Linked DNA regions of Homo sapiens: region 2 is linked to region 1. The links come from fine-mapping of genetic effects on gene expression. A gene starts in region 1. The other region holds a variant in brackets. All regions are shown on one strand. Distances are between the middles of the regions. Region 1 holds the start of SERTAD2 (SERTA domain containing 2). Region 2 overlaps SERTAD2 (SERTA domain containing 2).

The links.
Region 2: its variant is fine-mapped to the expression of SERTAD2 in whole blood (INTERVAL, PIP above 0.99).

Annotation. Positions count from the first base shown.
Region 1 is chr2:64,652,351-64,655,261 of GRCh38, reverse strand. SERTAD2 (SERTA domain containing 2) reads left to right here and starts at 1,349. Exons shown (of 2, transcript NM_014755.3): 1 at 1,349-1,642. LOC124907776 reads right to left here and starts at 1,191. Exons shown (of 1, transcript XM_047446580.1): 1 at 39-1,191. The coding sequence starts at 982. The coding sequence ends at 551. RefSeq lists silencers at 716-1,535, 1,273-1,567, 1,676-2,005, 2,306-2,385.
Region 2 is chr2:64,630,892-64,633,736 of GRCh38, reverse strand. It overlaps SERTAD2 (SERTA domain containing 2), which reads left to right. Exons shown (of 2, transcript NM_014755.3): 2 at 1-2,116. Among named protein-coding and RNA genes, the nearest start is that of SERTAD2-AS1, 4.6 kb to the left of the region's middle. The variant AG/G (reference allele first, on the strand shown) is at 1,493.

The sequences.
Region 1 (2,911 bases):
TTTCCATCCTCCTTAAAGATAAAACAAGAAGCGTTGTCTCCTCTATCAACATTTCAGCACAAGTTTAATTTCGATGAGATCATCAATTTGATTGATAACAAATCATTACAGAACAGTTTAAACAAGTCTAAATTTCTCTTGATGTTAACGACTTACAATCGCCTTTATGTTAGGTCTTAAAGCTTTATTATTCTTAAATACAACTAGTATAGTGGACCATTAAACTCCAAAGTGATCTGAAATGATATTGATTGGGGTGGCAGCCAAAATTTTAAGGTGCCTGCCTGCATTGCCTTTTACATCTTGACGCTGAATGCACGTGTAATTTTTAAAATAATCATTAATTTTCCAGTGGAACCATCTATCTGGCCTCTTTCCCTAGTGCTCTTAAATTCTCACCATTTGGGCATACACACATTCTCTTCCAACTAGTATAAATTTCCCTGGTAAATTTAAGTAGTTCCAAGCATAAGCTTACTCCACGGGAGGGAAAGGCTATCAATGTGAAACTTGTGGGCAGAGGACTGCGCCTCCGACCTGGCTGCGTCTCCTAGCTTGGCTTCCCTCCTGCCGGGTCTGCACCGAGCCCCGGCCGGCCCCGAAGGATGCAACTCGTTCGGTCCGGCTCCCAAAGTGCCGTGGACTTGGTGACCCACTTCTCGTGTCGGGCTGAGGCCACGCGGGCAAGGGACTTTTTCTGTCCCCGGCTCACGGCTGGAGCCCCCATCCTGCCGTTCGGACCAGTGCGGGCCTCGGAGGAGTGTCCCGCAGCGGACCCCCGCCCAGGAACCCCTGCAGGCAGCGAGACGGGCGCCCGGGCCAGCTCTCTGCCCCTCGCCCCCCGCGGGGACCCTGCCCGCCCCGCTGACCGGCCCCACGTTGCCAAATAGCTCAAATGCTTGTCATATTTGCGGTCGCGCGGCTCCGCGGGCTGTGCACGCGCTGCACTCGCCGCCGCCTTTGTCACCAGCCGCTTCGTCATTCGCCTGAGCACTTCTAGAGTGTGTAGGGGGCGTTACTAGTGGCAGTGGTGGTCCTCGGGCCGGAGTGTCTCCTTCTGTCTCCCCTCCTCTTTCAGCCCGTCCTTACGAGAAAATCAGGGGCGCGCCGGCCCGGCAGGGAGCTGGGGGCGGCGCTGCCACCAGGCGCCCACTGCGCCCCGCCGCCCCTTCCTGCTCCTCCTGCGGCCGCGGCCGGCCGCGGCCGGCCCCGGCCTTTATCGCGCCTCCCGGGACCGCCGGGGAGAGGCGGGCCGGGGCGGGGCCGGCGGGGGCGGGGTCGGGCGGCCAGGGGCGGGGCCTGCGGCGCCGGGGCCCGGAGCTCGCGGGAGGCTCGCGGGCCGCACGTCACTCCTGCACGGCGAGTGCTGGAGCACGACGTACCGCTCGCTCGGTCAGGGCGCCCCCTCCGCCCGCCTCCTGCTTCCTCCTCCGCTGCCTGCCGCCGCCGCCTCCACCATTGTATAATGCTCGGGGCGCGCAGGCAGAGAACGGCGGAGTCTTAGCTTCAGCCTCGCCTGCTGCCCGCTCCCCGGCGCCACCCTCGGGCCCCTGGAGCGGGGCACTCCGCATGGAGCGGGAGTAGCTGAGGAGTGGGCGGAAACCCCTCCTGATGCGTTAGTTCCCAGGTGGAGCTGCATGTGGTAAGTTCTCCCGGCGTCGGGCTGGAGGGGATCCGCGGGCGCGGGGGGCTCCGGGTGGATGGGGGGCCGGTGTTGGGACTCGGCCAGGGCTGGGAGAGCCCGGAGGGCGGAGGAGGGGCCGGGCGCCGCCGCGGGAGGGAGCCGGGGACGGAGCAGGTACGGGAGGAGCGCTCCCTCCCGCGGCCCCGGTCCGGGCCCCGCGCTCTCGGACCCCCGGCGCCTGCGGGCTGAGCCGCTGGGGGGCAGGGCCGGGGTCAGGAGGGGGTCGGGAGCTCGGAGAGCCGAGCGGCGGGCGGGGGCGCCTGGAGCTGTCGCCTCTACAGCTGGGATGTGTGTGCGCGTTGTGGCGGTTGTGTTGTTGTGAACGTGCGAGACTTTTTTTAAGGCTCGGATTGCTGGCGCGAAGGCTGCTTCACTTTTGAGTTCCGTGGCCGGGTTTGCATCCAACTTACTGTAGTGCGTTTTTGTGAATTTCCCGGTGTTTTTTTTAATAATGTTGAAAACCTTCCTCTCCACCCTCTTTTCTTTCGTCCATGCCCAAATGAATTGATTTGGGATCTACATGTATATTAAACTTAACGTCTCGTTGGTTTTTAAGTTAGAAATCTACAAGTCATCTTCGTGGTAACCGCCTATGACTGAAAGGGAGGGGGCTGAGGGGAGCCAGCTGTCCCAAGCCCTAGACTTTGTACCAGTAAGAGAGGGGGTGTCGTCACAGGGCCACTACATGGACAGAAAATCGTATTTTGTTTTGTTTTCTTGGCTATAAGTTACCTTTAGCAGAAGTGGTAGTAATAGATTGCGATGGGAGTCGAGTTTTAGGTTTAGTTTCTAAGTTTCACGAAAATATCAGGTATAGTTTGCATTGGAATAACTTTTTGCTTGCAAGCCGAGTCGTTTCAGGAGGTAGAAAGTAAGTTTTCACAGACACTGAATGGGGAGGACAGTCAGCAGAGTGAGACAGCCAGCCTCAGACCACAGCAGTTTTTATTTGAATCGAATTGGGCAGCCTCAGTTGGGCTTAGGGTAGAGAGTACATGTTTTCAAGCTTTGTTCATGAAATACGCTTTTTGATTTCCCAATGTATGTTAAGAAATATCCATAATGTGTGTAAAGAGGCTAGAAGTTGTAGTCACCAGGATTCCTGAGGCCCTAAGTGTTCACAGTAGCTTTTTGTAGTTAGAGACTAGTCCCTGACAAGAGTGAAGTGGGCTTTGGGCTTCGCTCCGCCCCTGAAGGACCGTCCACCTGAGAGCGTCTGGGCTGCTT
Region 2 (2,845 bases), 21 kb after region 1:
GTCATTTCCTTTAATAGGACCAGGGACCATGTAACTGAGGTGAGGGTTGTAGTAGATGCTTCCAGTGTCAGTATGCCTGTTAATTTTAAGAGCTTCCCTTTCTTGCAGAGAACAAGTCTGCCCAGATTCCATGCTTTCTATAACTGGAGGACCTGGCAAACCTGCCGCATGCTGCACACATCTACCTACGTACACATATACAATAGTATTGATGATTCTGAACAATAACAGGGTAAAACAGTTGGTTTGCCATTGTTAAAAACTGATTTACAGTAACTTACAACAACTGTACTTTTGTTGGATTAGCAAATCATGTGTTTAAACAAATCCCATATGTTGGGCAACAGTTCAAATAAGCACGGAGAAGTGTTGCCCAAACTTGGTTCTCTGACTCTTATGTATTTGTAAGGCTGGGCTTCAAAATCAAAACAAAAACCCCAAAAACAGCAGGCAAATGCTTTTTAACTCTGACACCGTTGCCATAAATCCCTGATACTCAAAGTCTAACAAGAAAGACATGGAAAATTAGCAGCCCATTTTCAGAAAGATCAAAATGATCTAGGGTTCTAATTGCTTTTGCATCCTATTCTTACAAAGTGATGTCCCAACAGGGAACAGTAGGAGCTGGAGTGGGATCTCCAAGTCCCAGTTTGAGTGTGGGATGTGCTTCCAGCAGTGCCTTCCCTTTATGAAAGACATCACATGGCATCCAGGGCCAGGCAGGCAGCTTGAGGTGCCTTTACGAGAAAACCGAGCTGGGGCTGGGAGAGGACAGTTATTGACACTGATGTGCAATGAAGTGACAAGATGAGAGCAGAATCGTAAGAGCTTTGAATTTGAAGTGAGTTTTTTTCCCCCCATAAGTTATTTATTCCTTTTTTCTGTGTAAATATATTTATTTTACTGTGGAGCGCTAACATCTGGATCGTAACATGTGCAGAATGTATGGTAGGAATGTATTCTCTTGTAGGAATGTAAATCTGTATTAAAAGGGGGTCCAAGCCAGGCCCCCAGGTCTTCTCATTGTATGCACAGTCCGCATTCATTTTTACTCTTCTCTAATATGGGTCTATTTGAAATATGCAAAAGGTATGAGGAATGTTTTAATACCTCCAAATTTTTAAGAAAAGCATCAAAGGGTTGATATTTTTTAAAGTTTTTTTAGTAGCACTTTCTCTGGATGACAGAAGGAGCAACCACATGGGCACCCTTGTTCATACCAAAGGGTGAGCAGTGGCCAGAGCCTCCTCTGCACCTCTCGAGTGTCTTTACCAATTGAGCTTTTTATCGCCATAGCCCCTTGGAGTGCCCCAGCTGCCCTGAGGTCAATCAAGGAAAATTTCTTAATGAAATAAGCTCCAAAGAGCCAAAGTATCAACTTACAGATCGTTTTTAAAGCTTAAATTTATGAACCACCTTTGTGGTAAACAATGAATTATGAATACCGCAGGGCAGCCTTCTTAAATGACAAATGTAAAAAAAAAAAAAAAAA[AG/G]ACTCTACTTCGTGCAGCAATTGCTACTCTATACGAATTGTCTTAATTTGAAAACCTTGCTGTTACAAATTGGACCTTTATACATTTTCTGAAAACAATGAAAAGAGTATATTTAACCTTTTCTGGCTGTAAATGGTTACCTTCCTGTAACTGCCCCGCACCTGGAGGCATGGAGTTGTGTGCATCCTGCTTATGTACAATTGTTTTCAGTGTTTCTAAGAATGAGTCTGAATGGTTCTTGAAAATTAGCCAGGATCAAATGCTATTGCAGACAAAGCCAATAAAAAGTTGGACTTCTTTTGGGGATAACAAGTTTTGGAAGAGAAATGCAGGCCATATGTGCGCATGACCGAGATTTTGAAAAAAGATGTACATAGTGACATGTTTGGTGCATGGTTTTTGAGGAGGGCTTTTGTCAAAAAGGAGGTATAACCTTTCCCCCACAGACCTGAGAGCTGTGCCTTTTCTATGCAATATTACAGACGTTACATCGGAACCCAGATGGCTGTATTCACATGTAGGTTTGGGCTGTAATCTAAACAATTGGACAGATTAAATGTACATGGAAATGAGCAGTCTTACTTTTGTAGTTTTATATTATACAATAAACAGTTAAAAGATGAGAGAGGCATGCTTGCAGTTTTCTTTTGATGGGAGCTCAATCAGCTTATTTGTGACAGTTTGCTCACATTAAGCAAAGTCCAGCAAGAGAGAGCAGCAGGGGGGCCCCGAAGGAGTGCGTGCTGTTGGTCTTCCTGAACCGTCCTGGTCTCAGGAACCACCCTTCTCTCCTGGTTCTCCTCCTGCTTCTTGGACCCTTCTGGACCTCCTTTTTCTCACATCTGTGCCCCAGCTCTCTTTAAAACATTGTCTTTTCCAGGGTTTGGCCCATGACTGCACTTCACTGAGCCTCCATTCCTGCTGCCTCTTGCTTTCCCAAGGTGATCTAATCCACTCAGGACTCTCAAAACTGGTCTCCAGCCCCTGCCTCTCTCCTGAGCTCCAGACTTCAGTATCTACCAAGATTTGCTCCCTCACTCTCAGCGCGTCTAAAGAGCTCTCGTTTCCCCTGGGGGCTGATTCTTCTGTGGGCTCGTTGTCTTCAGCACTCTGCTCCACGCTTGGCTCAGTTGCCCACCCTTGCACCCTGTTCCGCAGTCCCAGCCATGTCATTCCCTCTGCCACCACCTCTCCATCCTCACCATAGCGTCCCCAGCTCGGACCCTTTCTCTCTCCTTGCCTCTGACCGCCGTACCTGTTTCCTGACTAGTCTTCCTGCTGTGATCGTCTCTCTACCATCCCTGATGCTGGAGTTGACATTCTAAAATGCCAGTGGGTCACGTGGTTGTTGC